2 linked regions of the Homo sapiens genome follow. The protein of the gene in region 2 interacts with the protein of the main gene of each other region in a pairwise test. Each region holds a gene or a part of one and is shown on either strand. Other genes may lie near its edges.

Region 1 (3,911 bases), on a different chromosome or scaffold from region 2:
GGGAGGAGCTCTGACATTGGATCTTCCAGCTACCTTTCCTGGTGACCCAACTGTCCTTCATTTCCTGTCAGGATCCCTGTATAGTTTTCAAGAATCCCCTTTTTGTCTGAGCTAGGTTGAATGGGTTTCTGCTCCCTGCAATCAAGTGAACCCTAATATAAATGGAGTGGGCGTTCCCACTAGCTATGGGTCACCCCCTTCGAAAGCACGCCTCCAGCCATCAGTGCTGACTTCCTGTGTCATCGTGAGATGACTCAGGATCCTAGAGCACTTGGGCTAGCAGGCACGGTGCTGCTCAATCATTTCCATTGTTTCTCAACTTTCCTTTGGCATCACTGAACAATTAGCCAAGAAACATAGACACAGAGGAGAATTCAGAACTGGAGAAGGACACTCCTAGTTATCAGCATCCATAGTGCCAAGGATGCTTTACCTGAGAAAGTGTCGGTGGGCAGAAGTTTAAGGTCACAGGCCCCCCTAGGCCTAAGGGGCCTGTGGTCACGGCACCTGCAAGAGCTGCATAACCACCCTCCCAGCCTAAGGAGCAGCTTCTGGGCTAGAGAAGAGGGGTGGCCATGTTCTGACACCATTGTAGCCCGAGGAGTCCTCCTCCTAAGGGGCTACAGAGCAGCCAAGTGCCAAAGTCAAGTGGGCCACCTTCCTTGTCCTTGCAATAAATGGAGAGGGTTTCTTCTTCCACTGATAACCATCTGGGCAAATCAGGAAAAATAGCCTCAATCCAAGGGGAATGCCCATCTAAATGTCCATTACCAGATGGTGTCGGTGTCCAGAAACTTCACGGCTGCCCGGATCAGCTGATCCTTGTTTCTCTGGGTTGGGTTGTCCAATGATGTGTTGCACAATGTGGTCTGAATCAAAGGCAAAAACCACCCTGTCACTGCCTGCGGGGCTCAGGCAAAAGCCCTGCTTTCCTGAGGACACCACATCTGACACATAGCAGACAGCACCACAGCACAGCCCTCCACCAGAGGCGTCTGCATTACCGGAGCAGCAGCACAGCTACTGAGAGTGTGCCACAACCAGGCTCCATGCCAAATGCTTTGTGTTGACGCTCACAGGACTCGAGGGAAGCTTGCAGCAGCCCCAGGATTAGTGAACCTCCCCCATGGTCACATGCCTTTTATTACCAGGCTCTAGTGTATTTAATTTAATCCTCACAACAACCTTTTGGAGTAGGTACTATTATTATGTCCATCTGGGATGTGAAAACTGAGGCCCAGACAGGTTAAGTACATTGTCAAATACAGTTAATAAGACATGTATTAGTGATGGAGCTCAAATCTGACTGGAAACCTTTACCAGCTGCCTCCCTTACACCTTAGAAAGTAGGGAAATAGCCCATGCAAATCGGGATCAAGATTATTTTTTTCGGCCAAGTGTGGTGGCTCACGCCTGTAATCTCAGCACTTTGGGAGGCTGAGGTGGGCAGATCACCTGAGGTCAGGAGTTCAAGACCAGCCTGGCCAACATGGTAAAACCCCATCTCTACTAAAAATACAAAAATTAGCCTGGCATGGTGGTGGACGTCTGTAATCCCAGCTGCTTGGGAGGCTGAGACGGGAGAATCGCTTGAACCCAGGAGGCAGAGGTTGCAGTGAGCCGAGATTATGCCATTGCACTGCAGCCTGGGCAACAGAGTTAGACTGTTTAAAAAAAAAAAAAAGATCTTTTTTTTTCCAGACTTACCTTGTCAATAATAGGCTGCTTAGGTTACCCTATTCGTTTGTAGCCCTAATCACCCTAATTTCACTAGGTTGTCAAGGACCAGGCCAACCACCTCAGCAGGCTGTGATGTTGGGAGGAGGCCCACCTGGGTTTGCAAAGGTTGAGCACAGCAGCGGCTGGGATGATAGCAGCTGACTCCTGTATTGACTGAGTGCCCAGTCAGTGCTGGGGACCATGCCAAGGGCTTTCTTGCATCATCTCATCTCATCCTGACCACAGCTCCGTGAGGTGGGTACTATTATCACTCATCTTTAATCGGTGGGGAATATGGGGCTGCGAAAGGGGTAGCAACCTGCCCAAGGTTACAGTTTAGAAGCTGCAGAGGCTGGACCTAAGAGTGTAGCTGGGCCCTTCCTTCCCCAGGCAGCCTTGGTGCCTAGGCGAGCCACTTTGGTGTGGACGAGGGGGCTGGTTCTATAGGGAGTCTTCCTCACCTCACCCATCTGCCTCCAGTGGATCTTATATTCAACTAATATTTACTGAGTACCAACTAAATTACCTGCTAGTGGCTGTCCAGACACTGATGAGTAAAACAGACATGGCTCCTGCCCTTCTGTTGCTTACCAGGCAGTGGAAGAGACAGACAATAAATGTGCAAACATAAAACAATTATAAATTGCCTAAGTGCTGACAAAACAAATGGCCAGCTGCTGTCATAGAAAATAAGAGAGCTGGGCAGTCAATGAAGGTGACATCTGTCCTGAAACCAAAGGAGAAACCAGCCATCCAGCACAGTGTTCCTAGGAGAGAGAGCTGCAAGTAGCCGGGCCAGACAAGGAAAGAGTTTAGCACGTTAGTGACTTGAGAGGAGGTGAATCCCTGGGGGCCAGACAGGCAAAGGACCAGCCCCCAGGGCCTTGTCGGAATTTGGTAAAGGGTCTACCCTACGAAGCCCTGGGTGGGTCTCAGGGTCCAGGTTCACACTGTGAACTTGTTACCAGGTGCATGGTGTAGTACTTGATGGTATCCTGCTGGGAATCCCACTCAGTAGCCACTGCAATGGCCAGGGCCTCGCTGGGGACGGTAAAGAGCTTGGCTTGGGGAGTTTTCAGCTTCCTGTGGTCCAGGTTTATCTCAAAGCCACCTTGAAAGATCAAATGAAAAACTCTCAGGGATTTGTTAAGTGGAATCAAGTGACCATTCCTATATTTAGCCACTTGAATTGGTGCAGACAAAGCCAACTCTGAGTCCCTTACAGAAATATATCTCACAAAAAGCAGGAAGGATAATCGCACCATGAAACCAGCTGAAGATGAAAAATGTTCCCAACCATTCACAAAAAAAAAAAAAAAAAGAGGCAGTCAAAATTTCAGACACTCACCTTCACCCTGTGTGATGCTGACATTCTGATAAAACCTCTTCCTTTCTGTAAGAAAGATTTTTCAAAGAGGCAGTTTAAAATAACGTTGAGACAACTCAGGAAGCGACAGGACCAGCTTGTATCATTACTGCTAATGTTGATTGATTGGCTTGATTTTCATATCCCCATTCAAGGTCTGCCCTACTCAACACGGTATAATCAACCGCTTCTGATTAAAGCTGGGGGAAGGGAACATCTGATCTCCAGGGAGAAGGGAGGAACAGAACATGCTGGTCATACCTCTGCCAGCCCCGCAGCCTGGGGACAAGTCTGATCAGGAGCATCTCGGCATGCTCTCCCACCCTCCCCACCACCAGTGCCACCTCATGCCAGCACAACGAGTTCAAACCTAAAGTCGGTGTCTGAGTGGGACAAAGCTAGAGACCCATTTCAGGCAAGACTCTGATGCCTCTAAGGAGTGAGTGGAAAGCCAGTGTGCGTGCGCAGGGTGTGCGTGTGTGATACATCGGCAGGATACAGAGCTCCCAAGGGCATTTCCCATCCCCTCTCTCCAATTAATTAACCTAATTAACCAGCTTGCTTGTGTATCCAACAGGAACTCCAAACATTTCCTTCAAGAATGGGAAAATCTATGTCCTTTGTTTTCTTTTGAAAATAACTTGAATAAAATCTTACATGAAACAGTCTCCTTCTTTTACCCTGGAGGGATTAACAACCAAGAGCACTTCTAAGGAATTATGCAGATTCCCTCAACTGATAACAAAGAAGTCACATTTTGGAAGCTATAAGCTATAACTCAGTCTCTCACATCTGTGACAAACACAAAACTTTCATTCATTCATTC
Region 2 (3,911 bases):
TCTTTGCAATGAACTGAGGAGAAGGGAAGGCAGGAGGCTTGGGAATAACTTTTCACAGCTTCGGCTTTTGTTTACCTCTAATTGTCAAGCTGTTATTTCTGGAAAAGATGCAAGATGCCACCTTCAACCAATATTTCTTTGGGGCATTTATTAATTATAACCACAAAAGCATGCATCCATCTATCACAAACTTCTATTGTTCCTTCTTTAAGCCTACCTTAACTCTGTTATTGAAACTTTAATTAAAGCAGAAATGAAACAAAAATGTTATGCTTCTTGCATTTTAAAAAAGCATACTTGTATAATGGTTACATGTCTAAATTAGCTAAATTAACACCATATGGTAGGCAAAGTATATAAAGCCTTTTAAAGCTGACAGCTAAAGTGATTAAAGAAAGTCTACAGTCTTCCACTTAGAGCTTAAATCACATCTGTGCGCTTTCTATGTTAATTGCAGTACATGCAGAAGTGGATAATAAAGAAATTCCACTTTATTGGTTGTAATTTATATTTATTACCTGATATGAGAAAAAGTCAGCTTTTGTATATTAGTGCTGTAACAATATGTCTGCTCAGAAATGGCATTTAGGCAACCGGCATCATAGCCAGGCGGAGTATGCCCCTCAGAGTATGCGGCCTGCTACTGTAGCCTGGAAGCCTGCAACGCTTTCCTTGCTATTCCTTGCAACTATATTTCACATGCCACACATACAAAGTCAATGATGCATTTTTATTTGCCATGTAGGGGTGAAACTCTTGTGGTAGTTAGAAAAAACAGGTGGGAAATTGCTCTTCTGACAGAGATCTCAAGTAACGGGCACGCTATCTAACAACGACACGAACGCTGCATCGCTGCTCTAGGGAAGAGGTTAACTGACAGAATCACAATCCAATTCTCACATACACGCGCGCTATAGTAAGTACAAAAGAGTTTCCTTTTTATCAATAACAGACAATTGTATATCTCAGGATGCGAGCGCCTGAGAAGGAAGTAGTAAAATGATTCCGAGTGATCCCTGACTCCTCCGGCACCGCGGACGGATGCATCACCCAGACCTGTTTTCATTTTTGACTACACTGCAACGACACGGCCCACATATTAATCCGCTCTGCTGAGCAGCGGGTCGCGTTGATCGTCAGCGCTGGGGGGAAGGAGCGCGGGCTCCTCCGCGGCCCGGCGCGCGGCCTCGGGCCGATTACATTTCAATCGATGCCCTTCCCGGAGCTGGGCGGGGTGGCGGCGCCTGGACGCGGCGTCCTTTGTAGACGCAGCTGGCGCCGAGGCAGCCCGCGCCCCCGCCGCCCGCCGCCCGCCGCTCACCTGCACATGATCTCGTGGGTCAGCAGCACACGGCACATCTCCGGGTTCTTGTCCTGGCCCTCGTAGACGATGGCCTGCGCGAGGGACAAGCAGAGGCTGGGGTTACGCGGCGCCCGCGGCTTTGGCGCCAAATCGCCCCGGGCGCTGCAGGCCTGGCTGGCAGCAGGTGCACCACGCTCGAGGGGAGGCGATGCGCCCCCCTCCCTCGGCCACCCTCCCGATGGGGTCACCCTCGGAGCTGGGCTAGGCCGCGATGGCTTCTCCCTCCCCTGCCTCCCAGCCTCCTCCCCCGGGCGCCCGCCAGGCCTGCGAGGGGCCTTCGGCTGCAGGGAAGGCGCCGACTGGGCTCGGGCCGCGGGGAGGGCAGGGCGAGGGAGGCCGGGGCCGGGGCGCAAGGAGCGAGAGCCCGCTGGCACCGACCCCGGAACCCGGGGCTCCCGGGCCCCTTCGGCATTCCGCGCCGCCGCCAGGCCGCGTCCTCAGGCCATTGTCTACAACGAGTTCCAATCTGCATGTTGGGAGAGGCCGATCAGAACGCCCCGAGGCTAAAGAAGCAGGGAAGGATGGTCGCGGCGCAGGAGCAGTTTGCCAAGGGCCGAGGGCCGCGCCCGCCCTGCCCTGCGCGCTCCCCCGGCTCTAGCAAGTCTGGCGCCCCGCGGCTTCCCGCGGCTTCCCGCGTTCCAAACCCAGGCGCCCGCGGGGAGCAGGCCGCCCTGGACCGGCCGCCGTCCCGAGCTCCCGGGGCCTCCCTGAGTGGTGGGCAGCGACCTGGCCTCTGCACGCTGCGGGCGGCCTGGGAGCCCAGGCGGGAGGCCCAGGAGCAGCAACCGCACGTGGGCCGCGGCGTCGCCAGCGCCCCGCAGGAGTGCCGGGGCCCCAGGGCGCCCGAGCCCGCGCGGCCACGTGCTCCTCGCCGGATGATATTTGGAAAGAAAGTGCTAATGGCCAATCTGGTGTTTATTTTGAAACTGCTAACAGTGATTTTTCTCGGGTAAAAAGGCAGTCTCTGCGCGCACGCTCGGGTGGGTTTTGAGCAGAGGCTCCGCCAGATGGTGCGAAGCCCTAGGTGCGCTCACGGCCGCGCTCAGCCCGGCTCCGCCGCTGGGAACCCGAGCTGGGGATCGGGAGCCGCCCGCCCGGGCTGGGCCTCCACCACTGGCCTCGCGAAAAAACAGAAAAGAAAAAAAAAAAAAGTCTACTGGGGGAGGGGCGGGAGGCTGGGGCCGGGAGCTCCAAGTTCCCTGCATAAAATTCCACGGAAGGGGGAGGGATGTCCTCTTCTCCGGTTCCCGCCCCCACCCCTGAAAATTATCTGGAAATTCCTTCCAACCTCCCCGGGCACTTCTGACACTTTCCTCTACTTCCAGGCGGACAAAGCCCTTTCTGGTGAAAGCCCGGGGCTGCCCTCCTGGGAAGAGGGAAGGTTCCCCGCGAACCCCGCTCACCCAGCCTCCTGCCTGGACCCGGCTCAGAACCACAGAAGTGATGGGTGTCACCGCAGGCCAACGAGTCGCCTGGCGCTGCAGGGCGCGTGGCCGCGGCGGGCACCAGCGCTTCTGAGAGAGTGGCTTGTCCTCCGATGGATCGCCGTATTTATATTTGATTTATTTTTTATTTTGTAGCACAAACAGAAATCCATAAACTGTCGGTTCAGCGCCATTGACTCTTTGATCAGTTACTGGGCTATTTCTTTCCTTTTTTTTTTTTTTTTTTTGCCCCTCCATGCCCGTCAGTGAGAGGAGATTAAATGCCTTTATTTTCAGCCCTGTTTATACTGCAAAGGTACAAGGCTAAATGAACAATAAAAGTGTACTTAAAACGAAGCCTCCTCCTCCTCTGTGCAACAACAGAGAAACTTAGGGCTGCCTACATAAACCTCTTAATTAGACTATAGCGATTTCCGAAAACATTTAGCCATTATATACAAAGGAAATAAAATCACCCTGTCAACCAGCAGCCGGAGTTCCAGAGGCTTCTCTGAATCGAGTGAAATAATTACAGAAGGGCACACCGCCTCTGTCTTTGTCAGAAAGACCTTAGTTTACCTGTCAGATCTGTTTTACTCTAAGAGAAAAGCACACTGGTTTACCACTGCAGGCATTAAAATCTAACACCCTTGCTACCTAGGTAAGGACAAACTTTTTAAAGGGGAAATAAAATGTGCAAACTAATTGCATGCAGAGAGTGGGAGGCATATGTGCTGGGCTGCAGGAAGCCCCAACGAGCTCTCCTTTACTTGGCTCACAATTCTTAAAGTTAGCATCAAAACCGAAGAAGCCACTTTCATTTCTAAGTGTGAAGTCCAGCTTGGAAGTATATTTTAAAACAATCTGTGCCGAGTGGATTTAATCTACAAACTGGACCTGCCCCCCTCCCCACCACAACACTCTATTTTAAGAAAATGGGGGCGGGGGGAAATCTTTAAAACAACCAAATCAACAACAACACACCACCCAGCACAAAACCAGCAGCCAGAGACTGCACAATGTCAAAAAGCAGTGACGCACTTTTCTCCACTTAATCACATTACTGATAGCCAATAGTTATCATCGGAAAAGTTGACCAAGACAGGTTAAATAATTTAATAAGG

The links.
Region 1: the proteins of EBF3 (region 2) and ATPAF2 interact in binary tests that used the Homo sapiens proteins (3 or more experiments, as listed by UniProt).

Annotation. Positions count from the first base shown.
Region 1 is NC_000017.11:18,025,548-18,029,458, forward strand, and holds part of ATPAF2 (ATP synthase mitochondrial F1 complex assembly factor 2), read right to left. Parts: intron 3,113-3,911; coding exon 3,068-3,112; intron 2,831-3,067; coding exon 2,685-2,830; intron 870-2,684; coding exon 772-869; intron 1-771. UniProt on the Homo sapiens protein: Plays a role in the assembly of the F1 component of the mitochondrial ATP synthase (ATPase).
Region 2 is NC_000010.11:129,957,613-129,961,523, forward strand, and holds part of EBF3 (transcription factor COE3), read right to left. Parts: intron 1,396-3,911; coding exon 1,322-1,395; intron 1-1,321. UniProt on the Homo sapiens protein: Transcriptional activator. Recognizes variations of the palindromic sequence 5'-ATTCCCNNGGGAATT-3'.